Linked DNA regions of Homo sapiens. The protein of the gene in region 1 interacts with the protein of each later gene in a pairwise test. Each region holds a gene or a part of one and is shown in the gene's direction. Other genes may lie near its edges. The genes, in order: CTSD, SPRY4, EPS8L2 and ZDHHC20.

Evidence for each region.
Region 2: the proteins of CTSD (region 1) and SPRY4 interact in binary tests that used the Homo sapiens proteins (3 or more experiments, as listed by UniProt).
Region 3: the proteins of CTSD (region 1) and EPS8L2 interact in binary tests that used the Homo sapiens proteins (3 or more experiments, as listed by UniProt).
Region 4: the proteins of CTSD (region 1) and ZDHHC20 interact in binary tests that used the Homo sapiens proteins (3 or more experiments, as listed by UniProt).

Annotation. Positions count from the first base shown.
Region 1 is NC_000011.10:1,753,928-1,760,946, reverse strand, and holds part of CTSD (cathepsin D preproprotein), read left to right. Parts: exon of another isoform or gene 1-599; intron 600-1,307; coding exon 1,308-1,431; intron 1,432-1,859; coding exon 1,860-1,978; intron 1,979-3,390; coding exon 3,391-3,623; intron 3,624-5,918; coding exon 5,919-6,041; intron 6,042-6,808; coding exon 6,809-6,953; intron 6,954-7,019. UniProt on the Homo sapiens protein: Acid protease active in intracellular protein breakdown. Plays a role in APP processing following cleavage and activation by ADAM30 which leads to APP degradation.
Region 2 is NC_000005.10:142,322,009-142,329,310, reverse strand, and holds the start of SPRY4 (protein sprouty homolog 4), read left to right. Parts: upstream 1-4,289; 5' UTR 4,290-4,467; intron 4,468-5,063; exon of another isoform or gene 5,064-5,421; intron 5,422-7,302. UniProt on the Homo sapiens protein: Suppresses the insulin receptor and EGFR-transduced MAPK signaling pathway, but does not inhibit MAPK activation by a constitutively active mutant Ras. Probably impairs the formation of GTP-Ras.
Region 3 is NC_000011.10:701,303-709,230, forward strand, and holds the start of EPS8L2 (epidermal growth factor receptor kinase substrate 8-like protein 2), read left to right. Parts: upstream 1-4,928; 5' UTR 4,929-4,986; intron 4,987-5,269; exon of another isoform or gene 5,270-5,781; intron 5,782-7,928. Other genes in the region: TMEM80 (transmembrane protein 80), read left to right, coding at 1,643-1,844, 2,498-2,684. UniProt on the Homo sapiens protein: Stimulates guanine exchange activity of SOS1. May play a role in membrane ruffling and remodeling of the actin cytoskeleton. In the cochlea, is required for stereocilia maintenance in adult hair cells.
Region 4 is NC_000013.11:21,386,289-21,393,307, reverse strand, and holds part of ZDHHC20 (palmitoyltransferase ZDHHC20), read left to right. Parts: intron 1-133; exon of another isoform or gene 134-199; coding exon of another isoform or gene 200-349; intron 350-384; exon of another isoform or gene 385-486; intron 487-1,453; coding exon 1,454-1,586; intron 1,587-2,894; exon of another isoform or gene 2,895-3,113; intron 3,114-5,673; coding exon 5,674-5,800; intron 5,801-7,019. UniProt on the Homo sapiens protein: Palmitoyltransferase that could catalyze the addition of palmitate onto various protein substrates.

The DNA of each region.
Region 1 (7,019 bases):
CAGCCCCTCCCCATCTTCTTCCTCTCGCAACAGCCCCTCCTGTGCCCACTACTCCTTCAGGGGGAAGCAGGATCCAAGGTGGAGCACTCTGGAAGCCACCTAGCAAGCTGGGGCTTGGTCAGCCTGGTCCCAGCTCTATGGGGTCAGTTCGAGGCCAGGGCCTACTGTCCAGCCTCGGGGCTCTGGCCCACTGTGGGGGAGCCTTGCCCTCTGTCCTGCTTGGCCCGAGTCCTGGCTGTGACAGGAAGCCCAAGACTCACAGGCATGTGACTGGGCCAGGGGGGCCCTGGGGGGAACCAGGCGCCGTGTGCCTGGTCCCGACTGGCCAGTTCCTGATTGTCCTAGCGCGCGAGCAAGCAGATGCACGCATGCGCACACATGCACACACACACATGGAAATTTGCTGAGTGTCCCCCTGCCAGTGGTCACTTCTGTGGGGCCATGAGTCAGCAGCTGCTGCTGCTCCGTGAAGCCAGGCGGTTGGAGAAACATTGGGCTGGGCTGGTGCCAGGAATCTGGTGGCTGACGGTGGCCCAGGCTCCAATCCTGGGGGAAGCGGGCGCCCAGGCGACCCCAAACTCCAGGACCCTCTTACTCTCTGCCTCCTGAGAGGCTCGGCGGCATGGGACCCCTTGTACTTGCCTGATCCCTGAGTCAGCACCCCCACCTGCGCCTGCTATCCCTGTGTACACACGGGGAAACTGAGGCCCTGGGCCATTAAGGCAGGGTTGCTGGGCAGGCAGTGATTGTAAGGCTTACCTTCTCCCCTTGACCAGCTGAACCCCTCTGCCTGGAAGCCCTCCAAGCCTGGGGTTCACCCTGGAGGGCAGGGCAGGCACTGAGACACCCAGAATCAGACCTTGACATGGCCCCAACCTGGGGAGGAAGTCACTTCCTTTCTCAGACCTTGGACTGCGGGCCACCAGGGGAGTCTTCCAGGCCGGGCTTTCCTGCACCCGGGGCTCAGGCTGAGGGCCACGTCTGTCCCCACCCTGGCTTGACCTCTGGCCTTGTCTTTTCCGTGGGGAAGTCCTCAGCCTCACCATGTATTGAGCAGGGGTAGGTGACAGAAGCCAGGGGTCTAGAGACCCCAAGTACCCGTGGGCATTAGGACCGAGGGCTGGGGACCTGGCCCATCTTCCCTGCAGGCTGAGCAGGTGGGAGTGGGTGGCTGTTGGCAGCTGTGGGCCCCGTGATGCCCCTCCCTCCAGTATGGGCCTTGGCTCTGGGGACAGCCGGGCCTTCTGAGGCCCAGTGGGGAGATGGGGCCCCCTCTCCCATCCCTGACGGACCCTGTCCCCTGCCAGGCCCAGTACTACGGGGAGATTGGCATCGGGACGCCCCCCCAGTGCTTCACAGTCGTCTTCGACACGGGCTCCTCCAACCTGTGGGTCCCCTCCATCCACTGCAAACTGCTGGACATCGCTTGCTGTGAGTCACGAACCCTGGCCCCGTCGCCCAGGTCCTGCCCTTCCGGGATGTCGCTGCAGGGCTGCCTCAGGAATCACTTGGGCAACGCAATTCTCCTGCCTCTTGGCCCCGTGAGCCAGGCCAGCCCTCCACCCTGCTCCAGCCACTGACTTTCTGGGTGAACCACCAGCTGTGGTCTTGCTCTCAGCAGGGCTGGGGCTGGGGTGGCCACAGAGGGAGCCGGCTGTGGCTGGGAGGGAGGCCCGGGGTCACAGCCCACAGTCCCGGGGCTCTGGCATGATGGTGGGCCTCAGATCCCCTCCAAATCCCACCCTGGGGAGGCAGCTTGGGGGGTGCGGGCTCCATGGTAGATTGTAGGGGGATGGGAGGGCTAAGGCCGTGGCGTGGGCTGCGGGATGACCGGCGGGCCCCCTTGTCGCCCGGGGCAGGGATCCACCACAAGTACAACAGCGACAAGTCCAGCACCTACGTGAAGAATGGTACCTCGTTTGACATCCACTATGGCTCGGGCAGCCTCTCCGGGTACCTGAGCCAGGACACTGTGTCGGTGAGTCCCTCTGGGGCCTTTCCCAGGACTCGAGGGTGCCAGGGTGTGGGGTTCACCCACCGTGGGTATGTGGTTGAAAGGGAGGGCTCGGTGATCCCAGCCCAACCCCAGCCCTCAGGTGGCCGGGGCAGTCAGCAGGGTGAGGAGGGGTCTGGGAATGGGCCTGGTTGTGTGCAGGCTGGAGGGACAGCCTCAAACCCAGGGGGTACAGGGGCAGGGGTCCCCGGAGTCAGGCCACAATGAGTGGGAGGGAGGACAGGGCAGATCGATCGGGCTCTTTTTGGCACATTGGGTTTGAGGTGCCAGCAGGTGTTGAGGGCTGGACCTGGGGCTGCACAGGGTCCCTGCAGCAGGCCGAGGGCTTGGGGAGGCTTGGGGTTGGGAGGATGTACCAGGAACCCGCTGTGGGGGCTGCTGGCGGAGAGTCACCGGCAGGAGCCTGGGAGGGCAAGGGAGGGGGAGCAGCAGTGGCTGTTGGGGGCCCCGCCTGCATCCACCATCCTCAGGGCCCTGTGCAGAGCAACTCCCTGCCCTAGGAGAGGGTGAGCTGGCCCTTGTCACCCTGCCTGGGCCTCAGTGAGTTCTCACCTCGGAGCTGTCTGCTGGGGGTGGACCAGGCCACAAGGGGTTCAGGAGTTACGGGATGGTGACACAGCCCCCAGCTCTGGAGCGGGCCAGGAGGGCAGCAGAGCCCCCCTGCAGGCCCAGGGACCCGGGAAGAGGGCCCCTTCCTCCAGCTGAAGCTGCTCCTAACAGTTCCCTGCTGGGCTGGAGTCCAGTCTGTACTGGGGGCTCCTCAGAGCCCTCCTGTCTGGACCCTGCTCAGCCTGAACAGGAAATTGCCCCGTCTGCCCTCTTCCGCCCTCTTCTGCCCCCTCCGCCCCGTGTCAGCCTCAAGCTGTCGTTCCCTTCCCACATCCTGCTCTGGCCGTGTTCTCTCTCTGCAGCCTCATCCAGGGCTGGGGGAGGGGACAGGCAGAGAAGGGGAAGGGGGCAGTATGGCTGTGAGCTTGGGATGGGGTCGGCAGGTTCCCCATCTCTCGGGCTCCTGGCCCAGGCTGTGTCTTGTTCCCAGCGCTGAGGGCAGGAGCAGGACCTGCCTGTCATTGGTGGTGGGAGTAAGAGGTCGGAGCAGGGAGCGGAGCAAGGGGCCTGCCCGTCTGTGCTCCTGCCTGGTTCCCATCTCGTGTAAACCGAGCCCTGATGACTTCCACGAAGAGGGCCCCGCCATACCCCGTGTCCCCATCCCCAGCGGTGTTCAGCTCAGGGTTTCCAGCCCTTTCTTCTGGGCCCTCTGGGCCCCATCGTGTGTGGGATGGGCATCCATTGAACTGGGTTTTGTAGCCTCATGCTCAGGGAGTGGTGTAGGGCTCAGCCTGTCTGCTGCCCACTGACTCTGCCCTGGCCTGCAGGTGCCCTGCCAGTCAGCGTCGTCAGCCTCTGCCCTGGGCGGTGTCAAAGTGGAGAGGCAGGTCTTTGGGGAGGCCACCAAGCAGCCAGGCATCACCTTCATCGCAGCCAAGTTCGATGGCATCCTGGGCATGGCCTACCCCCGCATCTCCGTCAACAACGTGCTGCCCGTCTTCGACAACCTGATGCAGCAGAAGCTGGTGGACCAGAACATCTTCTCCTTCTACCTGAGCAGGTGGGCGTGTGGGTTCCCTCTCGCTCCGCGTTGCTGGGAGGCAGGGCGGGGCTGGACGGGGAGCCTTCTAGGCACCCCCTCTCAGTGCTGCCCCCTCCCTGCTGCTGTGCCAGAGCTCCTGACCTCTGACCTCAGGGCATCCGGGAGGCGGGGGTTGGCCGCCCTTCTGCAGAGGAGTAAGCGGCAGCACAGAGAAAGCTGTTTGGCCGGGGTCTCCCAGTGGGAGGGGCTCGGGCCAGGCTGTGGGTCCTGGGACCTTGGCAGCTGGGCCTCCCTCCTATGAGAATGGACCCAGGTCAGGGGTCGTGGCAGTTCCTCTTGGTTCAGTCGGCCCGTCGGTCCCCAGACCTGGTGATGGGCACATGTGGTCCTGGTCCCGGGGTTGCTGATGGTGGAGAGGGTCATGGTGCCCAGGGGACCGGGGATCCCCGGGGAGGTGACCTTGGGTGCGTATGGGTCCCCGGCACCACGCTGCGAGCAGCTCTGTGGGCGTCCCCAGCAGGTGCCGGCTGCCCTCGAGGAGGAACATAGGGGGCCCTTCCTTCTGGGAAAAGGGTTCTCCCCCAGGGCCCCCACCTGCAGCCGCTGCTCCAGCTTGGGTGACCCATGGTCAGGTGACCTTGGGAAGGGGACGTCGGACTCAGTTAGTTTCCTCTTCTCGGGGCAGACCTGAGTGGAGGGTTCCACATAAGAGGGGTGACTGGGGGTTGGGGGCTTTTGTTTTGGGGGTGGGCAGCGTGTCAGCCGGCGGCCTCCTGCCCTGAGCTGCGCCTGGTCACTGCCCCACACTCTCCAGGGCTGACAGGGGCAGGTTTACCTCACGTGGCTCACTTGGCACTTGGAGTCTCTGGGCCTGACCCCTAACCTTGGATCGCTTCCGGCAGAATTCCGGCTGTAGGGCTGGCTGGGCCTCTTTGCTCTGCCCCTTGCCTGGGCAGTGAATACTCCTTAGCAACACCCAGGGCTAAGCTGCTCACTAGAGGCCAGGACACAGGTGAACCGGCTGGGCCATTTCCCCAGGAGCCTTGGGGCACAGGGGAGGCAGCCAGGTGAAAAGGGGTCCCCTGAGGGCAAGAGGGCATGCAGGCATGAGTGCCCACATGGGGAGGGGGCACACAGCCTGAGTACCCAGGTCAGGGAGGGGGACACAGGCATGAATGCCCATGTGGGGGAGGGGCACACAGCATGAGTGCCCATGTGGGGGAGGGGCACACGGTATGAGTACCCAGGTCGGGGGAGGCATACACAGGCATGAGTGCCAGGTGGAAGGAGGGGCACACAGAGTGAGTGCCCAGGTGGGGGAGGTGCACATGGTTGTGAGTGCCCAGGTGTAGTCTCAAGGCAGCAGCTTGGGCAGGAAGTGGAGCCAGGCAGGAGGGAGGGTCTGAGGGCTTCTGAAAGCATGTTTGGTGAGGAGAGGAGGGGTGGGAGGCGCTGATCAGGTTTCTACACTTGGGATTGCAGAGGTGTTGACAAGAGGCAAAGGCGGAGGAGGCTGGAGGAGGGCGGAGGCCCCAATCGGTGTTGGGAGGACTGGGTCAGGCCTGGCACTGCCTCGAGTGACAGGCAGTGGGATGGTGGCCAGCTTAGCTGCAGACGCTCTGGCGGGATGGCAGAACCGCCCCAGACACAGAGAGCTTCTCTACCAGGACCGGCAGGATTTGCTGCGTTGAAAGCTGTACTTGAGCAATGTTTAGAAACAAACCCGGGCGACATGGGTTGCAGGTCCTAGGAAGTGCAGTGCGCTCCTGCCCAGGAGCACCTTGGCTGGCCATCAGTGGTCTGGATGAGGGGGAGATGAGCGGACGTGGCTCGGGGATGCAGGTGGAGGGTGTTCCCAGGAGCAGCCAGTGCAGAGGCCCTGCGGCCAGAACCAGCCATCCCAACTTCCCAGATTGTGCCATCACTCCCTCCTGGAAGCCTTCTTTGGTTTTTTCTTCCAGACAGACAGACAGGGTCCTCCCCAGTGGAGCTCCTGGCACTCACTTCCTTGTCTGCCGCTAGCCTTGACCCTGATGTCTGGCTGAACCTTGGCTCCTGAGCAGACCAGGAGAACCTGAGGGTTGAGGAAAACCTCTTCTGGGCCAGGCTGGGCCCACGCAGAGCAGCCCTACCCCGGGAAGAAGGGAGTCTGTCCCTCCTCCTGCCTTCTGGGCCTTTCCATCCCTGCAGTTTCAGAAAGGCCCCTCCTTCAGGAAGCTCTCCCTGATTGCCACATTCACCCTCTTACTCCTGACCTGGCACTCTTGTGCTTGGGGGGTGGCGTGGCAGCTGACTCCTCCCTTTTCCTCCTAGGGACCCAGATGCGCAGCCTGGGGGTGAGCTGATGCTGGGTGGCACAGACTCCAAGTATTACAAGGGTTCTCTGTCCTACCTGAATGTCACCCGCAAGGCCTACTGGCAGGTCCACCTGGACCAGTGAGTAGTGGCTGCAGTCGGCTCCCCTGGGTTCTGTGGGCGGGGGCGGTGTGCGGAGACCCTGGAGGACCCCGGTTCTGCAGGTGGGGGTTGCATGTGGGGAGTAGTGGGAGCTGGGCAAGAAAGAGATGGGGTCAGACCAGCCCTCCATGCCCCTCCTTGCCCCTCCATGCTCCCCATCACCTCCATCCCCTCTATTCCCTCTATCCCTCCATCCCTCCATTTCCTCCATGCCTCTGTGACTCTCCATGACCCACCATCCCTTCTGTCCATCCCTCCATGCCCTCCATCCCCTCCATCCCCTCATCCCTCTGTGACTCTTCATGACCCTCCATCTCCTCCATCCCTCCATCCCCTCCATCCCTCCATCCCTCCATCCCCTCCATCCCTCCATCCCTCCATCCCCACATCCCTCTGTGACTCTCCATGACCCTCCATCCCCTCCATCTGTCTATCCCTCCATCCCTCCATCCCTCCATGCCCCTCCATCCCTTCATCCCCTCCATCCCCTCCATCCCTCTATGCCCCTCCATCCCCTCCATCCCTCCATGCCCCTCACCACCACCTGAGGGTCTCCCACCCCCTCTACCACTCTGTGTCTCCTCTCCCACCCTCTTCCCTGGAGGGCTTACAGCCGGCTGTGCTTCCAGGAGCCCTGAGGGGAGGAGAGTGCAGCCCAGCCAGGGGAGGGGCTCCCAGGGAGGGGCACTGGGCCCCCAGGGCACACTCCAGTCCCGGCAGGGGCTTCACGCCCTGACTCCCCGCAGGGTGGAGGTGGCCAGCGGGCTGACCCTGTGCAAGGAGGGCTGTGAGGCCATTGTGGACACAGGCACTTCCCTCATGGTGGGCCCGGTGGATGAGGTGCGCGAGCTGCAGAAGGCCATCGGGGCCGTGCCGCTGATTCAGGGCGAGGTGAGCGCCGGGGGCTGGGGCTGGGGCTGGGGCTGGCAGGGGGAGCCCCAAGGCCACCACTACCAC
Region 2 (7,302 bases), on another chromosome or scaffold:
GAGTTCTGGGGAACCTTCTTGAGGGCCTCAGGCTGTGCCCCCCTCCTCTGCTCTCTGTACTTTGTATGCACTGCTGATGTTAACTGTAATTAAGTGATTCTTTGATCAACTATTTGTTTAATGTCTATCTCCCGAACTTGACTATAAATGGTAGGAGTCCAGAATTTCTACACAGGTGGAAGGAAATAATCTGTTTGGGTAGGGGGGCCTTTGCTTCCATTGCATAATACTTACTAAGGTTGAGAAATGTCAACTGAACACAGAAACGAATGGGGGTTCTGATGGAGATTGTAGGAAGAAAACACATGCCATCCTCACCTCTCCATGCCCTCCCTGTGGCATCACCACTGTCTATAAGCCCTATAAGAGCAAAAATTGTGTCTGTCCCTTTTCTCACTATAACTGTTAACAGCTGGCACTATGCCTGAAACATAAGAAGTGTGTCACAAAAATAGCACGCAAAAAAACAATTTTTTGTGGAATAAATAAAATTTTAAAATGGAGCCTTGCACTTCTGGTCTGCAAAAGAGGGGTGACACAATCAAGACCCATTTTTTTTTTTTTTTTTTAGACGGAGTCTCGCTCTGTCACCCAGGCTGGAGTGCAGTGGCGCGATCCCGGCTCACTGCAAGCTCCGCCCCTCCAGGTTTAAGCAATTCTCCGTCTCAGCCTCTGGAGTAGCTGGGATTACAGGCGCATGCCGCCACGCCCGGCTAATTTTTTTGTATTTTTAGTACAGACGGGGTTTCACCATCTTGGCCAGGCTGGTCTTGAACTCCTGACCTTGTGATCCACCCACCTCAGCCTCCCAAAGTGCTGGGATTACAGGCGTGAGCCACCGCACCCAGCCAAAGACCCAGCTTTTTGAAACAATTTTACATATGAAAACATGCTGCACATACAACTGGCATACAGTAAGTGCTCCAGAAGTGACTGTCATTGAATTGGAATTCCTGCCTCTCCTCAATCCCACTAACTCCAGGTCCTAGCAAGCCTAGGAGATTAATAAAAGAACAAAGCTCAAAACTGAACCTACTCTACTCCCCTGGCCACAATCTGGTGGGAGTGACGCTGTTTTTATTGGAATCAGGGTAAAAGATTGTCATTAGCCCTGGCAGGAATGCAAGGTTGTTAGGATGTGCCTCTAGCAGGAAAGTTATACCTGGGGAAGACATCGAGTAGCTTTGGAATGAACAGAGTCAGATGAAGCAGAAAAACAAATCCAGCACAGACCTACCGGCCACCCAATCCTAAAGAAGGAACATGATGTCTTCACCCTGCAATGGAGCAAATGCTCTGCATTCCCCAACCACCTTTCGTTCTGTCCCCTCACCCCCTAAACTGTGGCCCCAGGGCTGCTGGAGAGGTTTAAAACACAAATCAGAATGTGTCAGACCTTGCTTAAAATCCTTAATGGGATGACATCTGAATTCCTCACCAGGCTCACTTCAAACTTGCTCATAAAGCTGTGGCCACAGAGGCCTTCTGTCAGTGCCTCTAATATGCCAGGCTTTTCCCACACACGGCCTCCACCCATGCTCCCTCTGCCTGAGATGTTTCTCCAGTCCTCCCTCAGATTCACTTCTCAGTCTTTGGGTCTCAACTCACAACTAGAAGCCGCCCTCTCAGAGACATTCCCTGATGACCAAATCAGAATCAGCTCCTTCCACCATCCCCCACCTCCCCGGCAAGCAACATACCCCAGAGAAAGCTCATTTCCCTCCTAGCACTTAGAACCTCATGTTGCAGCCTGTCTGTCTGTCTTTTCAAAAGACTGTGAGCTTCACAAGGGCAGGGAGGGCTGTCTGTCCCTCACCACTGAGTCTCCAGAGTCAGGGCAGGCCCCACTACAGAATCGATCAATGAATGAGTGAATGAGTGAATGAATGAATGAATGAATGAATGAATTTTTCATAACTGCTGCTCCAAACCATTCCTCAGCTTAGGTTCCAAGCACAACCAGAATATGACCTCCAGAGCCCTTCTAGACGCTCTGAATCTCGCTGTACTTAAGCATCAGAGGCCCCTCCCAGCTCAAGACTGGGAGCTCCTCCTTCTCCCCACCACAGGCTGGGGTCTCCTCGCATTCTCTTTCAGGGAAGCTGAGAAAGACTATGAAATGTAATCCTGTCTGTCTCCTGAGTTTCTCTAATAAAGAAAACAGGATAGCAACCCCCCTCCCCGCGGCTCCTCCAATCCTCCTTTTCTGCCATAGATTTAAGATTTATTTATTCCCATCCTTCTGACTGTTTCAGCAAGGGCCATGGGTGAGCACCAGCTGGAAAATTACTGCTTCAACTTTCATTGTTTAAAATGCTTAAATGACATGCGAGAAACAGGTTTTTAGGTCTGTGATGCTGAGAAGGGTTGGTAGCAAAGTAAAGCCAGGTTGCAAAGACCTAGAAAATAAGTGCTACAATTTACCAGCTCTTCCATATACCCGGTGCAGGACCCTTGGCCTCAGTTTCTACAGCTGACAGAGAGGGCGATACTGAACTTCAACAGCCTTAAAAGGAAGTCCTGGACAACTGTACCCATTTTTCTGGCGAAGAGTTCTCTTGGTCTTAGAGAAAGGTCTCGCCCCTGAAAGGAAGGCTGAGGTTCCCTAGGGGAGAGTCTGCTCTGCCCTCAGGAGCTGGGTAAGTACACGGAGGGGTGAGCCGAATGGTGAGAAGGCATTTTAGGCTAGGACTCGGTGACCTTGGGCTGCCTGCCTCTAGAGTCCCAGCCCCAGCCCTAGGCCAGACCTCAGCCCTGGGCTGGGAGCCTTTCATTGGTTCCTCTGACAACAGCCAAGCACAATCCTATAGTGGCGTAGGAAGAAAAAGACTGCCACACAATCTCCCCGTGCGGCCAGAACAGCGGCAAGACAGACCTTACAAGGGACTCAGGGCCAAGCCCTGGCCCAGACTCTGCTCTTATCCACGCATCAAAGCCACCCCCCGCCCCGGACTTCCCGGAGGCTACAGGCTCCTCCGTTCCAGGGAGGAGCAGGGCCTGCTGCGAGGGCTCCCCGCCTTCCTGGAGTCAGGCCTAATGGCGGGGGCTTTTCTTTTCACCGGCTTGAGCTGATCCTCACCCCCGCCCCCCAACGCCACCATCATTAACAGCGAAGAAAGGATCCCCAGCCATTTCCATTTCCTCTGCGGCTCAAGAGCCCCGTTGTTATTTAATCCTGAGGCCACCCCGGCAGCATCCTCGGCGCAGCCGGCTCCACCCATCCACCTGGCCAGTTCTCGGCCGCTCCCACTTCCCCGGAGGGGAGGCCGGTGAGAGGTGGGGGATATTGGGGAAAGGCGCCTACAACAGCGAAGGGCCGTGGGCCTTCGGTGGACCGAGGCTCCTCAGGCCAGCGTCCTGTGAGGGCTGGGAAACCGACTGGGACAGAGAAAGGACACCTAGCTAGGGCGACAGAGAGCGGGCAGACGCCCGGGCACTGCGGACATTGCACTGGGGCGGGGGGCGGGGGGAACGCTGGGAGGCGAGGGCCAGGCTTCCTCTGGCTGAGTTGCCAGAATCGCCCCGGGGGGTACTGGAGCCGGAAGAGGCCTGGGCCCAGTCACTGTCTACACCCAAGAAATGGGGGGAGGGGCGGCCAGCACTCACGAGAGATTCAGCCTCAGGAAAAAGAACCAGATTCACTCACCAATCCTCACCCCACCCTTTGATATGAATGATGGACATTTTCCTAATTTTTGGTAAACGCAGCTTCAAGACCCCTCCCGCCTGGCGTCTCTGGTCTAGAGCAAGAGAAGGCCCCCAGTAGGGGTCCTCCCGCCCCCCCTTTTGACTGCCTGCGGGGGGCAGAGATCCCCAGATCTAGGTGTGCCCTCCACCACCCTGCTCTCAACCCGGGATCCGGAGGCCGCAGCGTCCCCCACCCCCCAGCGACACTGACGGTTCCTGCCCAGGCCCGCAGTGGCGTGAAGGTGGCCTTTACCTCCTCTCGCAGGCTGGGAGGGGGTGCAGCCCGCGCAGCTGGCCCAGCTGCAGCAGTCGCCGCCGCCCTCCATTCATTAAAAAAAAAAAAAAAAAGGCAACAACAGCCTCCACTGGAACCTCCACCCCTCTTTGTAAAAGAACGACGGCTCCTGGTGGAGCTTGAGCCAGTCCCAGCAATCACGGGTTAAGATCTTTTCCCGCCCCCCATTCATAAAAAAAGGAGCGGAGCGCATGCGCGCTCAGGGTCTGTTGTGCCCACCCATTCATAGAATCGCGAACGGCACGCGTGCGCACTGGCGCTCCCTTCCCTCCCATTCATAAAAAAGCCATTTTCCCAGGCAGTGGTTGCAACATCGCCGCGGAGGTAGCGAGCTGAGCTGACAGCGCGGAGCTGGCGCTGTGGAGCGCAGGGAGCCTTGCCGGTTCCTCCGACCGGCGTCTGCGAGTACAGCGGCGGCTAACCTGCCCCGGCTTCAGGATTTACACAGACGTGGGGCGATGCTTGTGACCCTGCAGCTCCTCAAAGTAAGTCCATGGCTGGTTTGGAGATCTGAAACTGCCCCTCTCTGAGCCGCGACGCGACTCCCCCCTTGGGCTGGGGCAAATGGTGCGCTATTTCTAGGCGCGCCTCAGTGTTCCTTCCCTCAGCCTGCGCCTCCTTGAGTCGCTGCGGTGCGCCGCAGCTCCCTGACGCCCTCGGCCCGGCCGGCACGGCGCCGGGGGTGTTCACAGCCTGGCACCGCCGTTTCCGACCCCTGGGCATTGCCAAGCCCGGCTTCCCCGCCCTCTGAGACTCGGGAAGCCCCGTGCGTGTCCCGGGAGTTTGCCTCTGGCCTGGCCTCTTTCCTTCTCCTGCCACCATCCGCCTCGAACGCTGGAACGGGCGTCTCTGGGCTTGGTCAGGAGCCACCGTTTGGGTCGGGGGGCGCCCTCGCTCTGGGCGGCTCGCCCACCTCCCAGCTCGGTGCCCACGGTGCCAGCTTTGCCGTGTATCTCCCAGCCCGCCGTAGCGGCCTATGCTCGACGTAGATTTTTTCTTTCTCTTCGGAGCCGTGACGGACTGAATTCCCTCCCCTTCTGCCTCTCCCTCGATGGTCAGCGAGGGGCTGGCTCAGGACTGGGCATTCCTACTCCCTCTCCTTGGCGAGGCGGTTCCTCGCCGTCTGACCTTTGCTCCGCTGCCGCATTTTATGCTATGCAACTGCCTTGCAGTTGACTTTTTCTTGCCTGGCCTCTGTAAGGCCTGAGGCTCCTCGGCCACCCTGTACCTCCCTATCCTCGGGCACCGAGCTGTGCCAGGCCCCGGAGCCCCCAGGCCGCGCTAGGGCTGCGGTGGGGGTTGAAGGTGCGTTTACATAACACCAGGCGTGTGGGAGCTGGAGGAAGAGGTTGCGAATGTAGGAGAGATAAGGCTCCTGCTTTCCCTCCTTCCTTCTTGGTGGTACCAGGCTTGACATCACAGAGAAGAGGATAGAGACGGTATGTTCTGACAAATTCTGAATCGCCAAGACCCCGGGGACAGTGAGCTGGGTGAGGGCGGGTTTGGCTAGCCAGGGCAGCTAGAGCTTGGCTCCATCACTGGGTCCAGGGCTGTGCCCAGTTCCCCCTCCATGCAGACGATCAAAAAGCATTTAGACAGTAGCTGCTCTTGTGCAAGAAGACGGTTTCTCAATTCTCCTTGATTGGGGGCAGGGGGTTGTGGGCAGGAGAGGCAGGGGAGACAGAAAATGGTTGCGTGGCTTATAGGGCTGAAGGATGGGCAAGAGAGGCGAAATGGGCTGGAGGGGCTAGATGGTAGGCAGAGTAGGGAGCTGCTGGCTGCCTCTTTCACCAGCTGCTGGAGGGGCATCCATATTGCCAAGGCCTCTGTGAGGGCAGGAGGCCGCCTTCTGGCGCAGCAAGGCTTCCGTACCCCCCAGCGCGGTTAGTGCTGGAAAGAAGAGTGTACAGTGGGGTGCCCAAACCTAGTGGCATCCCCTTCTTTCCTGCCTCCAAATCAGTGGCGTGATTCTCTCCAGTTTTGGGAGAGGCCAGACACACTGGAGGCCAAAGAACTTGCAGAGGGGCGGGAGCAAGCACTCGTCTGTGTCTGTAGCTGACCGAGGCACTAACCTCCCTGACAAGTCTCTCGGGATTCAAAGCTGGAAGGTATAAGGCTCAGAGAAGTTGGGAACTGCGGGTTTATCAATCTCTTAATGAGCTCAGTCTGGCCTGAGGCCCTACCCAATATTGCACTGGTGGATTTCACAATGTTTGGAGTTCTCCAGATCTTCACACAAATGGAGCATAAACATCTCTGAAATTTTCAGCCTTTTTTTTTTTTTTTTTAGGGCGGGTGTCAGGAGAGCTAGGAGAGGCAGGGCTGCAGTTAAAGATTTCTCTTTCTCTCTCCCTCTCTGTCTCCCAGAAGGGTGGGAAAGAACTAGTGGAGATGTCCAGTGTGAAATCACATTTCCTCTTTCCCATCTCTTGGGAGGGTTCTCACGTGCTGCGAGGCTCCAGCAAATCCTAATGTGGTGAACAGCACACACACTTACCAACCACGCCATGTGGCCAGTACGGGTGTAGGGTGGGGATTTTAGTAGCAGATTTCTGAAATCTTCATGGACAAATATTGGTCAGTTACAGTGAGCAGACTTTAAAGGCATCTGTTGGTTATCAGGAGTCACTCCCTTTCAGTGGAGTGTAAATGCCCTCTTGCCCTTAGCCCTCCTGCCCAGCTCCATGACCTTTTCCAGATCACCCTCTGAAATGGCCTCATCTCACTGAAGCTTTAGTTGGGGGCTGGTGGGAGGAGACAGAACACATAGTAGGGCAGAGGCTGTGGACAGGTGGACATTTGGAGCTTACGGATGTCGTTTTCATTTATATATATATATATATATTTTTTTTTTTTCTTGAGACGAGTCTTGCTCTGTGACCCAGGCTGGAGTGCAGTTGCGCGATCTTGGCTCACTGCAACCTCCGCCTCCCAGGTTCAAATGATGCTCCTGCCTCAGCCTCCCAAGTAGCTGGAATTACAGGTGTGTGCCACCACACCCAGCTAATTTTTGTATTTTTAGTAGAGACAGGGTTTCACCATGTTGGCTAGGCTGGTCTCGAACTCCTAAGCTCATGATCCGCCGGCCTCTGCCTCCCCTGGGATTACAGGCGTGAGCCACCACGCCCGGCCTCATATGTCATTTTTATCTGCATCCTCCCAGAATTGGCGGAGAGATGTGGCTCTTTGGAAATCTGTCCTGCCCAGTTCGCACCCACCCATGACCCCAGCCCCAACTTTGGTAAACCAGAGGTTTGGCTGACTTTCGTGAATAATAAATGAAAGCAGCCTTTCAGTGCCAAATTTGAAAATCAGTGATA
Region 3 (7,928 bases), 1.1 Mb from region 1:
CCCCTCCTCCCAAGTAGCTGGGATTACAGGCACCTGCCACCACGCCCAGCTAATTTTGTTTTGTTTTGTTTTGTTTTTTTTTGGTAGAGACGAGACAAGGTTTCTTTTTTTTTTTTTTTTTTTTTTGAGACAGAGTCTCGCTCTGTCGCCCAGGCTGGAGTGCAGTGGCGTGAACTTGGCTCACTGCAAGCTCCGCCTCCCGGGTTCACGCCAGTCTCCTGTCTCAGCCTCCCGAGTAACTGGGACTACAGGTGCCCGCCACCACGCCCGGCTCATTTTTGTATTTTTAGTAGAGATGGGGTTTCACCATGTTAGCCAGGATGGTTTCCATCTCCTGACCTCCTGATCCGCCCACCTCGGCCTCCCAAAGTGCTGGGATTACAGGCGTGAGCCACCGCGCCCGGCCGGAGACAGGGTTTCGCTATGTTACCCTGGTTGGTCTTGAACTCTTGGGCTCAAGCAATCTGCCCACCTTGGCCTCCCAAAGTGCCTGGCCTCACTCCCCTTTTTTTAACCACACAATTTGTTCAAGGGTATGTTCTTGTACAAGATTCAAGGGGTGCAGAAGTAAAACATGGAAATTCGCCCTCCCCAGAGCTCACCTCTGTGGCCAGCGGGGTGCAGACTTCCAGCCCTCTGCGTGCTCATGGTCGTAACATGTGCACCTAAACACACGTGTTTGTGAAACATTGTCCTGCCGTGGGGAACGCAATGGGCACTTCCAGGGCGCTGTGCCCCTGCCAGGCTGGAATCTTGGGCCCCTCTTGTTCACATACAGATACACCCCTGATGCCTGATGTCCAGTGAGGAACCAAGGCTGCGGGGAAGGGTGGCCCCCACCCTTCCTCTTGTTATCAGGCCTCAGACACACTAGGAGGATGGAGGCGAGTTCTCTCAGCTGCCCATCCCACTGAGGGGTGCCCGGCCGTCAGTGTCTTGTCTGCACTTACGTCCCAGAACCTCTAGAGCTTGCCCCCCAGGGCGGGCACTGCTGGGAGGGTGCGAGCACCGCTGCGGCACAGAGGCCCGGTTCTTGGCTGATCTTCTGGGGCCTGGGCCTGCCCTGAGGTGGTGGGGACAGGGTGTGGCCTGGCCCTGCTGGGGGCTGCTAGGCCAACGGGACCCTCCCCAAGCGCGCCGCACACTGCAGGGTCTCCAGGCACCTGGGCTCAGCTAGTGACTGACCCATTTGTTTGCTAAATACGCAGTTTTGTTTTTAATACATACTCGTGAAATTTTCCAGAACTGGCCTTGGACCAGAGAAAAATACTTTGGGAATTTTTCAAAAAAATCCCTTCAGTTCCACTTGGAATTAGGAAAACGTGGCAGATGCACTTGAATCATTTTAGAAACCAAATTCACCCCCGCCCACACAGCCGACCCAGAAGACCCAGAGACAGATCAAACCATGCTGTTGCAGGGGCACCTCCCCCAGGAGGGGCTCACGCCTGTGTTGCCCATGCTCTCTGGCTCTCCTGAGTTCTGGGTGGCCATGGAGGCTGTTTCCCTGGAATTCCCCAGGCCCCGGAGGAACGTAGGGCAAGGAGCTGCTCTGGTCCCAGCAGCCCTCCAGGCACCTGTGGGCGGTGGGCTCCAGGGAGCGCCTCGCACCACCTTCCCTCCCCTTTGCTCTGTTCTCCAGGCACCAGGGGCAACCTGACAGAGGCTGAGAGGCCGCTGGCCGCCAGCCTGGCCCTCACGGCTGGCACCGCCCTCCTCTCTGCCCACTTCCTGCTTTGGCAGGCCCTAGTGTTGTGGGCGGACTGGGCCCTCAGCGCCACGCTCCTGGCCCTTCACGGCCTGGAGGCCGTCCTGCAGGTGGTTGCCATCGCGGCCTTCACCAGGTAGCTACGGACACCCGGGATACCCCACACTGGGGCCCTCCTCCTGGGCCTGACCAGTCCCCCAGCTGTCACCTCCCCATTCCTGGACAGGAAGGGCACTTTTCCTAGTGACTGGCCATAGATGGTTTTGGATGGTTCCATCTGTTCTGGCAGGAGTGGGAGCAGGAGCCAGGGCAGAACAAACTGCTGGAGGCCCTGGTGTTGGGAACAGCTGCGGGGAGGGTAGGGACCAGACAGAACTGCCTTCAAGATGAGTCCCAGGAGCGCACACTCAGCCCTGTCAGTGGGGTCTGGCTTTAGCAGCCAGGCCTCCACAGACCCCCATGGGCCCCCAGGGCCGAGAGGGAGGACAGAGCCCTTCAGAACAGAGGCCTCATCTCACTGCATCCCCCATCACCCCCTAGTTCCCCAATGGTCCTAATTTGTGTTCTGAGATCCCAGTTTACTCCGTGGCCAGGCCCCACCTGTGTTTCCAAGTCGGGCTGGAGACGCAGGATGGGGTAGGCCTTGTGCTCTGAGCAACCCCAGCTCTGCCTCACAGGCAGGCAGGCCCGGTGCAAGAGTGGACTCTGGGTTCCTAAAGCAATAAATGCAAACAAGCCAACAGCTCTGCTGCCTAGCAATTTCCATCTTAGCCACACTTCTCCCTTCAGGGGCTTCGGAGGAGAGGTCAGGGCTAAGGCCGGGGATGAGACTGCAGGAGAGAGAGCAGCGGAGGGCCACATTCGGAGCCTCCGTCCACTCCAGTTTTATCAGCTTTTGCCTTTTGCACGGAGTGCTAAACAAATTCTAGCTCTGTGTTTTTTTCCCATTCCCAGATTTACTATCAGTTCTCCTTAAAAAGTATCTAAGCTGTTACAGTAGCTTTCCCTTCACTTGATTCTATTGTGTGTTTTCTATGTTTGGAATAATTACACCCAAATATCTAGATATTTTCTCTTCACCGCATTTTGTAAATAAAGAGATGTGTATGCCTCCCTGAATTCTCCTAATTATGGCCACCTCCCCCACCCCATCTCCAGTTCTCCTGCCCTGCAAGAGAGCACACCCCACTTGCCAGCTGGTCAGTTCCTGGCTGGCCTCGCCCTCGGGCCCTGGCTGCCGGGCGCCTTCCGCTCGGTGGACTCCTGAGGGCAGGAGGCTGCGGGACTGTCCTGGGCCTCCACTGGGGCTCCCTCGGCTGGGGTGGCTGTGGCTGTGGCACCTGGACAGTCTTTCCTGCCTGTCTTCGTGGAAGCGGTGGGAGCACCCAGTTGTCCTGGGCCGACTTCCTTTGACCTGTCTGTGGCCCCCAGTGGCCACGGTGAGCTGCAGGACAGCCCTGAGGACCCACTTCACACACCAGCGCCTGAGCGCCTCGGGCCACCTCCCTCACCAGCGCCTGCACTCGCAGAAGACCAGCTGGGCACACCTGCCATCTGGAGGACCCAGCCCACAAACCATGCAGACCAGGGAAGGACCCCCTCCCTGAAGCTGGAGACCTGTTGCCTTCATGGTTAATGGATCCTGATACCTCCAGTCTCAGCGAGCACACAAAGGCAGTGGTCACCTGTTCCACAGGGAACGCCATGGCTCCAGGTGACCCGGAGTGGATGGGGCCCGAGAGGCCAGCCTGGACTGTCTCCTGAGGGCAGGCTCCGCACTCAAAATCGTGTTGACAGGCACCCGTTTAGGAGTGGAGAGGGACCCCACCCCCCAGCTGTCCTCTCCAGCGCCTGTTTCCCACTTGGCCACTCCCAGCTCTGCCTCCAGGAAGGGTGAGGGCACGGGTGCACCGAGGGGTTGGCGTGTGTGACCCTGAGCTCTGGGTCAGGGCAAGCTCATGCATGGAGCAGGATCACGGCAGGTTCCTGGAGATCAAACGGCAAAGGCTGTAAACCAGGAAGCCAGGTCTTGCCTGGGCTCAGGGGCAGGCACTGGGCCCGAAGGAGGAGGGCCACTTCCTGCCAGCCCTCCACCGAGCTCACCTATGGCGCCTCCCCAGGAAGTGCTCCGGCCAGCCCAGGGTAAACACGCTAGCCCTGCCCCTCTGGGACCATAGCCCGGGGACCCAGACTCTTGGCCACGCTCATTCCCACCCCTACCCAGGACCGGCAGCCGGAGCCTTGGGTCCCTGCATGGGCCTGGGGCGCCCTGTGCCCCTTCACCTCGTCCTCGTCCAGTTGACTGCTGTGGCAGCCGGTGCTACCCGCTGTGTCCACTGCACCCTGGCCCTGTTCTGAGCGGTCACAGCAGCTGGGGAGAAGGGCCATCCTGGAAGCCGGGCAGATGAGGACGGAACCAGACAGTCCCACTGTGGTGGGCAGAGGTGGGGCCTGGGCCTGACCACGGGGCAGTGCAAGGAGAGAGGCATCCTGAGAGGGCCTGAGGTGTCCCCACCTCCCCTGACACCCCATCCCTCAGTGCCCAGGCTGGGCAGAAAGGGGGGCCTGGAGGAGCAGCTGCACTGTGAACTCAGGGCTCCAGGCCTGGGGTGGGCATGGCTGGGTCCTGCCTGACACCCACCCACTCACCGAAGCCTCTGCCCCTGGGCCTGCGGTGGGCCCGGTAAGGGAAGTGACTCTGCCCCATGCCTGGGGCACCTGAGGGGTGCACCTGGCCCGGCGGAGGCTCTGACCTCCCCAGGGCTGGAGCCCTCCCCAGCAATGCGCCAGCGCTGCCCCCGAAGTCCCATTGGCAGCGTTCCCCCGTCCCCCGGCCTGCTGGGGCGCAGCTAGGCCCTGCCCAAGGAAGAGCTCGAGGCCTCGCCCTGCTCATCCCGCGGAGGCGGCCCTGCGCCCCGCCTGTCCCCAGCGCCCCAGCTCTAGGGGCTAGGCCCGCGGAGGGGCACACCAGGCGGGTGTTGGGGAGGACGCAGAGGGCTGGGGCTGGAGCCCAGGCGGGGCAGGGGGCGGGGCGGAGCTGGGTCCGAGGCCGGCGGGGGCGCCTCCATCCCACGCCCTCCTCCCCCGCGCGCCCGCCCGCTCTCGGGTGACTCCGCAACCTGTCGCTCAGGTTCCTCCTCTCCCGGCCCCGCCCCGGCCCGGCCCCGCCGAGCGTCCCACCCGCCCGCGGGAGACCTGGCGCCCCGGCCGAGGCGCGAACAGACGGACGCACCGGCGAGCGCCGAGGGGACAGGCCGAGCGCGGGGCGCCGGAGGCAGGTGAGCGCTGCGGACACGGGGGAGCGCGCCCGCCCGGGCCTCAGTTTACCCGGTGGCGATGGGACGCGGGGCTTCTGGTTCAGGACACCGGGACGAACGCGGCGTCGCAGGGCGCGGGGCACTTGGAGGGCGGCCGGGCCGAGGGCGCGGGGCAAGGGGCTGGGGGCCTGGTCGAGTCCCCACCTCTCCTGGACGGGTCCTGCTGCAGCCCGGCCTGCCCCCGTCGGTCCTGGGCGGCGGCCGGCGAGCAAGGATATTTTTAAGCCAGCGATGGGTGACTCACCTGCCCCGTCCTGCCCACTCCCAGCTCTGGGGCTTGGTGGGGGCAATCCCTGCGTCCGGAGAGCGCTGGTGGTAGGGAGGCTTCTCCCGGTTCTGTGAGCAGCAGGACCCTCCCGAGGGCCTGACCGTGGAGGTAGCACTGCACACCCACTCCCTGTGGGCCGGAGCCAGGAGGCACTTCCTGGGTGTCGGAGCCCAGAAGGAAACCAGTGGCCGGGAAGCACCAGCTGGGTCAGTCTCCAGGTCAGGGTTGGGGGTGGGAGTTTCAGGGAGGAGGGGAGGCTGGGACAGGGGCTGCAGAGGCCCTGCCAGGAGAGGCAGGAGGGTGGGCTGGCAGGAGCCTGTGGGCACGCGAACTTCAGCCATCCTAGATTCCTGGTCCCTGCGTCCAGCTGCCTGGCGTTGCCCCTTGCTGCGGGGTGTCCCTGGTGGCAGGGGAGGGGGAGGCAGGGCCGGGCATGCCCGGACCTCTGCCCCCACCCACCCCGTGCTCAGTCCTGGGTCGGCTGTGCTGGGAGGCAGGCCCAGCTGGCGGCGGCCCCTCCCCTCGCGGCCCCTCCTCCCCTCGCGGCCCCTCCTGGGTCCCAGCCTCTCCCGGGCCTGCTTAGCACCCAGGCCTTGTTGGCATAGCTCTCCCACCGGGCCTTCTCCGCCTGCCTCGGTCTCCTTTCCCACCCTCAGCTTCCCCAGCTTATCCCTTCCTCCCTCAAGCCATAGCTTCCAAACAAGGACAGGGCCAGGGCCTGAGGGGCCTCCCCATTCCAGGGCCCCACCCAGCGCCTATGAGGGCAGCCTGGAGCCCCTGTGACTCAGCTGACCCCTCCCCAAGGTCACTCAGCATGTGGAGCTGGAACTTGAACTTGGAGCCCGTCCCTCTACCCTCCTGCCCTGCTGGGACCTCCTCCCCTCCACAGCCCGACTGACCGGGCACCCCGCTCTGCCTCACTTCACACCGGGAAAATGACCACAGTACAAAGTGCAGCCTGGGCCTCCAGGGCTTCGTCCCCACCACCAGTGGGCCAAAGAAGCCTCCCCAGGGGGGCGGGGCTCCCACAGGGCAGGAGGCAGCCCCATACCCATGTGCTTCAGACCCAGACACCACACCTGGACCCACCCCACTGCTGCCCGGCCCTGCCTGGGCCTGAGGTCCCCGATGCCCTGCAGGCAACCGAAGGCCAGGAACCTGGCCTTCCCCAGGGGGGTCGCGTGTCACAGCCCTCCATGTTTGCGTGCCCCCAGGCCTGAGTCTGCAAGGGTGCGTTGGTGTCTCGCCCAGGTGTGTGCCTGGACACACGTGCCTGGCGCCCTTGGTGGAGCCCGCCAGGAATCCCATTAAGCAAACACTCAGGCTCGCCACTGAGCCCGTGAACATTCCAGACATTCTCCACGGATAGATGGATGGAGGAAGTGGCCATACCCCCTGGTGCACCCAGCCCCTCATGTCAGCGGCAGTGCCCCCGGGCCTCCCAGACCCTCCCACTAGGCCAGACCTGGTCAAACCAGAAAGTCCCGGGTGCTCCGAGCCACTCCCTTGACCCTCCATACCAACAGCAGTGGCTGGTGACCCCCACCGTGGCAGACCCAAACTCTGAAGCCACAGGGGACAGCCCTGCAGCCCTGGCAGGAGGCAGATGGTGTGGACCTGTGGGGAGCTGATCACAGAGCCACAGAACAGCCAGGTCCCCACAGGGCATAGTCCCCTTGGGACAAGTCAGCCTGGTTCAGGGCCATCAGGCTCTGTCCATCCCCCCGGGAAGCCCCTAGGGTCCAGCCCAAATCAGACCCACCTGTCTGCCCTGGCGGCTGGGCCTTAGTTTCCCCAAAATGCTCGGGGAAGAGGTCAGCACTAGGAGCCCAGAGACAGGCTCTGAGGATTCTGCCCCTGGGGGAGGCCAGAGGCACCTGCCCCATAGCCACCCTACCTCGTTGGAGGGGCAGTGATACTGTGTGTTGGGGCCACTGGACTGGCTCCCAGTCTCAGCCCCCACCACACCTGCCCTCCAGTCCCTCCCCTAGGCTTGGCTGCTGCCAGGGGTTCTGCGCTGGCCACCTGGCCGCATCCCTGCCCTCGAGGTGAGGAAACACTGCACCCCGGGGACCCCAGGGTTTCCTGCCCGCACAGCCTCTTCCCTGCCAGGTCTCCCAGGCCCAGGAAAGAGCCAAGGGCCAGCCTCTTTGCTGGGGCCTGGACAGAGGTGGCATGTGTGGGTGGCAAGTCCACATGTGGGTGCAGGAGCCCCTTGGGGTGCAGGCCTGGGGTGGGGCAGGAGTGGCGGCTAGAGCCGGGCTCCCTCTGGACTTCAGGACCTACCCCAACTCCAGCCTCACCTCTCCTGCCATCCTGCAGCTCCCACCCGCCCTCCCCCAACCCCCACCGCACCCCCCTCCCCCCACACTCCCACCTCATCCCCCTCCCCTTACCCATCCCACCCCCCTCCCCACAGCACCAGGGCCTTAAACTCCATGCTGCCCAGCTTGGAAGGCGCCTTCTGCCCCCAGGGCCCTTGTCAGAGCCTCCCAGTCAGCCTCTGGGGGGTCCCTGTGGAGCACCTAGGGTCTGAGGCATGACGAGGCTGATCGACTGTCAACTGGGACGTGGGGCCAACTGGGACGTGGGGCCAACTGGGATGTCGGGCAGGGGCTCTGCCCCCCAAGGGACC
Region 4 (7,019 bases), on another chromosome or scaffold:
GCTGGTCTCAAACTCAACCTCAAGTGATCCGCCTGTCTCCGCCTCCCAAAGTACTGGGATTACAGGTGTGAGCCACCGTGCCCAGCCAAGACCTTGTATCTTTAAAAAAAAAAAAAAAGAAAAAAGAAAAGAAATGTGCTTGAACAGCTACATGTTCTTGTCTATTTTTTCTTTTGTATTTCTTGAGAAAATGTTATAGATGGCCATTAGAAAGCAACATCTTAGTGTTCTTTCAACAGGATTTATAAAACTAGTGTTTAGGATAATTTTGCATAAAAATTGGTTTCTTAATATATGTCTCTATTTGCACAAGCTTTGCCGCAGGAAGTCTACAGAGAGTTGTCCAAAGGTAAAATACATCATTACCATGACATTCTCATGATCTTTGTGACATTTATAGTGAATATGTTTAATAAAAATTTGCTTCACAAAATGGTCAGAAGACTCACTTGATATGTTTGAAACATTTGAAACATGTTGGTTACTCTGGAAGAAAAGAGAAAAAGATCAATGTCACAATAACCTAATGCTAATAGTCTTCTTTTAGTCTGTAATACTTTTTAAATCAAGCAGAACAGCCTCGTGTTCTGGTGGAGTAGATGCTTTGCCTATATGGTTTATTTTAAGAGCTAACATTTAAAGGCTGCCTCCTTCTATTAAAGGTACTAATTTCTTCTAGGCTCTAGTTTGCTTCTGTTAAAATGTATATAGCCATAAGAAGGGATACCAGAGAAGCTGTTTTCATTCATTAATACCTGTGGTAAATTTATTTATCAAAATTGCTAACTATGCACAAAGGCTCTGTAGACATACAGATGAAAAAAGTAGGAATTGAAGCAGCTGAAGGCATGGGTAAGGTGGTCTGAAAATAGAGATTAAAGAAGTCCAAAAATATTTCACAATTAGTTTTTAGTTAGCAGCAAATCTAAATAAAATAAGCAAATATTTTTGTATAGATATGGGGAGCTTATATATGTCGGATGTTGGAGAAAGCTTGAATATATACATAAAGTACAAAAGAAAATTTGTTGGGTAGAAGAGTCGATCTTTTCACTTTATTACTGGAAGTATTGCTATTGTTTTTTTTTTTTTTTTATGAGACAGGGTCTCACTGTGTTGCCCAGGATGGCCTAGAACTCCTAGGCTCAGTGACCCTCTTGTCTCAGTCTCCCCAATAGCTGGGATTACAGGTATGCACCACCATGCCAAGCTAAAATTAAAAAAAATTTAAGAGCAGTATTTTAAATAACTCTTCCTGAACTCCTAGATAAGCAGGTTGCTTTGGTAATACCAATTCTTTGCTTTTGCCCTTGTTGCATTGGGATATATTAAGTAATTTATTAGTTTTCAAATATGGCAAGTATTTTGATATATTCAACAATCTTTAGACAGAACTAACTTGTAAGTTATATTTTAGAGGTTGACCTCAAAATTAACTTCTTTTTTTCCTCAGAATGAACTGACAGATACACGTGCAAAATTCCACGTACTTTTTCTTTTCTTTGTGTCTGCAATGTTCTTCATCAGCGTCCTCTCACTTTTCAGCTACCACTGCTGGCTAGTTGGAAAAAATAGAACAACAATAGGTAAGTAGGTTAAAATAAATTATAATTACTTAGGACAATGACCATAAATAAATATGAAATCTAGAGAAGAACAAGGGTCAGATGATACAGAAGTGTAAGACAATTCTGACTCTGGAATTGGTGGCACGTGCCTAATAATCCCAGCTACTGCAGAGACAGAGGCGGGAGAATCCCCTGAGCCCTGGAGGACACCCTAGACAACATAGGGAGACCCAGTCTCTAAAAAATAAAAATAATAAAATAATTCTGTAGTAAAATTAATTGTGACTGGATGGGAACAATGGTTTTATAATAAAGGTTCATTATTTTGGAGAAGGTTGAGGAAATGAGATTGACTTTTTAACACATTTTCAGTAATGTGTTATATATAAAAGTGGAGAACTATTTTATAAATTTTAATAAATGAAAACTTTCCTGCATTCATACAGTGTCGTTTCAAAAATTAATCTATAAGAGGCAGGGCACAGTGGCTCACACCTGTAATCCCAGCACTTTGGGAGGCCAAGATGGATGGATTACTTGAGTGCAGGAGTTCGAGACCAGCCTGGGCAACATGGAGAAACCCTGTCTTTACTAAAAATACAAAACAAAACTAGCTGCAGTGAGCCAAAATTGCACCATTGCACTCCAGCCTGGGCAATGAGAGTAAGACCCTATCTCAAAAAAAAAAAAATTAATCTATAAGGGATAGACAGTAGATTTACATGCTTTAAGGAAGTTTGTTCTCAAATAAGAAAACCTTTATATCCTCAATTACAGCTTATCTTTTAGCTAAAACATAACAATGTATTTCATGTATATTCTTTTTTTTTTTTCTTTTTTTTGAGACAGAGTCTCACTCTTGCTCTGGCTAGAGTGCAGTAGTACCATCACAGCTCACTGCAGCCTTGACCTCCTGGACTTAAGCAGTGTTCCCACCTCAGCCTCCCAAGTAGCTGGGTCTACAGGTGTGCACTACCACACCCAGCTAATTTATTTATTTCTTATGGAGATGGGGTCTTGCTACGTTGCCCAGGCCTGTCTCAAACTCCTGGGCTTGAGTGATCCTCCCACTTCGGCCTCCCAAAATGCTAGGATTACAGATGCAAGTCACCTTGCCCAGCCCATATATATTCTTTACTTTTTTCCCCCACAGTTAAACACATTTAACTGGCATATGTTCCATGACTGAGGCTAAGGAATAGTGCTTTTGACATGCCTCATTATTTCCATATTTGTGTCAGTTGTCAGTGAGACTTACGTATTGTGTCACTAGTATTAACATTTATTTCTCTTTTTGTTTGCTCATTTTAAAAAATGAAAATATAGGGGGAAAAGTAAGGTATTCACGTAATTGGACAAACATTCCCTAAACAGCAATGGTGGCATTGCTCACTGAGCTATTGACATGTAAGAAGTACTGCTATGTTATCATTGAAATATTCATGTATCTGCTAACATAACCAAGACACAAAATAAGGATTTTTACGGTAGTGTTTTGTAAAAAAGTTAAAATCCACCTGCAATCTGCAGCCATATATCTGCCAGGTAAGTTGGAGGGAAACAGTTTTTAATTACAGAAAAATTAAGGGATTTGGGGTGAGACATGTAGATGCTTTAGTTATTGGATCATTTTAACGTTGTGTTACTGAGCTGTGTTGTAAGTTATGGTGGGCTTCCAGTGTGAGGATTTGTTCCTTCTCTTCCAGTTCCATCATGCTTTCATCCCTTTTCCATGTAAATAAAATTTCTTATCCCTATTAACTACTTTTTTTTGTCATCTTTATAGAATATTATGCCATCTCTTTACCTTTAATTGAAAATGATAAAAAGGCAGCCTACAGGCAAAGTCCAGCCCTTAAGTTCTCCCCAACCAATAAAATCTATGTGAGTGATTTCACAAAGAAAACCAGATTTCTTCTTTTCAAAACTGATCAATCTAGTGGTAGTAGGCCCGTTTTCCCACTTGGCGTCAGTGAAATGGAGCTAAGCAGTGGTGGACTGCCCAAGATAGGGCATGGATTTAGATAGGGTGTGGACACTGTCATTTGCTGCAGGTCTTGCCAGTCGTGCCTTCTTTGTTTCCTGCCCAGCCCCCGTAGGTATGTGAGAGATTGGCATTTCTAGGGAACCTGCTATTCTCTTGAACAATCTTTTTCAAACTTTTTTTTGCCGGTGGCCACAGTAAGAAATGCAGCATTTCATATCATGACTTAGAACATGCACAAATATTTATAAAATTATATAAATAAAACAAGCAAAAGTTTCACAAAACCTTTTTAATCTCTACTATATGCAGTATATTCTGATATTTTCTTTTCTAGTTTCTTAAAAGGAAATGCGGGTTGCAAGTCACTCAGTTGATTATGTGGTCTGTTAAGGTGTTTTAACCCACACTTTGAAAAAACATTGCTTAGCACACCACTTTCTAACAGCTTCATCTCCCACAGCCCTGGTCTTTAGCTAGTTCTCCACTGATTCAGATGTTTGTTCTTGGGTCTTTTGAGGGTGTCTTATTCTGCTGTATCACCTCTGTCTTCTTCATAACTGTCACCTACCCACCTTGAGATCGTTTACCCTCATTTAGTGAGTTCCTACATTTAAGCTAATGCCATTATCCTGAACAAGCAAGCTAGTCCCTTTGATTCTGAGTTTTTTAATCGCTTAGAACTGAAGAGCCCCTGAAAATGAAATTTTAAACTTGAATATGTTATTCTCTATTTGCTGTATTCTGATGTACTTCCTGAGTCTTCTATTCTCCAACAATTTTCTCCTAAGTTTTTCTTTCCCTTCTGGTTTTATTTCTCACCCATGTCCATTCTAGATCCTATGATAAATGACTTTAACAGCTCTTGACAAAAACAGCTCCTTACATCTTTGGTGCCTAGACTTTCTCCCATTATTCCTTTGCTAATTCATGGCTCTGGTTATCCAGCCATCCTCTATCCGCGTGCACAGTGGGGCTGTTGAAAGCTGTAGAAGGATGTCTTACTCCATAAGGTTTGCTATAGCTACAGATTTAAGATGTTAGGCCTCATGGAGGGCCTTAGCTCTGTTTGGCAGTAATGTCACATGTTTCTGGTCAGGTCCCTCACCTGTTACCCAAGATGGTTATTCCAGATTTTCATAATTCTCCCACTCTCCTTACCCATTTTATGAGTTCCTAGTAGAAAAATTAGAAGGAGTCACAAGTAAACTCTCATCTTCACATCTTTATAGCCTCATACAAACATTTCTTGTTTCACACCCATCACTCTCACCTTCCTCTAACTTCTGAGGAAGAAAGATGTCTTTTCTGGTATTCAAGGTTAACCTTTACAACTTTTCTAGACTCCTTCCCATCTCTTCTAGGATCCCTTTCTTCAGTTTTTATTTTACTTTTTTATATCAGCAATCCCTCCCAATGCCCTGGGTTCTTATCCTTAGCTTATAAAACACACTGAAGTGCCTTGTTTTTAAATTAAAAAACATTTTTTGTGAAGCCTGTATCTTTCTCCAGACCTCACTCTACATCACTTAACAACCAAGCTTGAAATAATGGTCTAGTCATCCTCAGCTTGCTCACCTTTCCCTACAAGCACCCCCGAGGCACACATATGTCTCTATCGAGACAAAATTAGCTTCCTTCACCTCTGTGCTCCCAGTACGTCATGGCCATGTTAGCACTTATAACACTGTAATTTTTGCTAGACTCTAGGTTCTTTGGTAGGAATTTTATCTAATTTATCTTTGAATCCCAAATACCTGGTACAGTGCTATCAGGAACATAGTAGGAAATTCATAAATAATGAGTGAAGTTGCAGGAGTTAGAATATCTTGTAGAAAAAAAAAGCCAAGAGATACTGAGCACACAATACTAGATTTTCAGTAATATTTGATAATTATTTTGACATGTTACTTTATAAGGTTGATGAAATATTAAATGTGCTATTTTTTCCCAAAATAAGTTTCATAAATTTATCTTTTAATTGCTACTAATGTATTATTTATTTTAAATTATATTTACAGTTTTTGTGTCAAAGATATAAGCAAGAAAATTGGTAATTTCCATCCCTCCTATAATTTTTAAATAGATTAATTAGTTTATATATGTATGTATATTTAACAGAATCATTCCGCGCACCCACGTTTTCATACGGACCTGATGGAAATGGTTTCTCTCTTGGATGCAGTAAAAATTGGAGACAAGTCTTTGGTGATGAAAAGAAATATTGGCTACTTCCAATATTTTCAAGGTAATTTATAAAATGTGGGTCTCAGAGATTATGGCATCTGTGGTAGTCTCTTTTTCTGGTTAAATGTCTTCAGATTTAGAGAATATAATATATAATGATATTCTCACAGACTTTGAGAATGAAAACTCAAAATATCTTTTTTTATACATAAAATATTTTATTTTTCATTTTTTAATTAGATAAGGTTAAGGAGAGTTTATATATTTGAATGGGAAGTAGAAGAAAAAGATGATTCACTAAAAAAATAAGATTTTTTCTTCAAAATGCAAATAACTTGTTTGAAGTAAAGAATTATAAAAATTTATAGTTATTAGCCACAACTTCAAAGATCCTATCACAGAAATGAATTGTGTATTCTGTTGTGTCCTAAATCAAAGAAGACCAACCACATACTGCAATTTTACCCCAAATGTAAATGAGAGTATATTCTTGAGATGATTGATAGTTTCCATTTCTTTCCAGTTTCCATCCTTTTTAGGCCAGCTATATACCAAAGTCATCAAAAAGAAGGGAAAAATATTTGAAGATTGAGTGACATATTTGTAAGAGTTATGGGTTTTTTCCCTAGATTAACTGAATTGCCTTTTTTTGGTCTGAAAATGACTTATTTGCTTTCATTTTTTAAAGACATTTTTGCTTGGTATAAAATTCTAGATATTAGCCAGACACAGTGGGTCATGCCTGTAATCCCAGCACTTTGGGAGGCCGAGGCAGGTGAATCACTTGGGGCCAGGAGTTCAAGACCAGCCTGGCCAACATGGTGAAACCCGGTCTCTACTAAAAATACAAAAATTAACTGGGTGTGGTGGCGCACACCTGTAGTCCCAGCTACTCGGGAGGCTGAGGCACAAGAATCGCTTGAACCTGGGAGACAGAGGTTGCAGTGAGCTGAGATGGTGCCAACACATTGCAGCCTGGGCAACAGAGCAAGACTGTCTCTCAAAAACAAAACAAAAAATTTTAGATGTTGCTAAATGTTATGCTTCTGGGTTGCATTTTTCTAATAAGAAATTGTGATAACTCTTATTTTTGTTAGTCTATATATGTTTTTTCTATGGCTACTTTTAAGACTATCACTACTTCATGCAATTTGATTATGGTATATCTTGATCTAGTTTTCTAGTTTCTTGTGCTTGGTATTAGTTGAGCTTTTTGGATCTCTGGTTTTAGAGCTTTAATCAAATTTGGAAAATATTGTTAACCATTATTTTGTCATCTC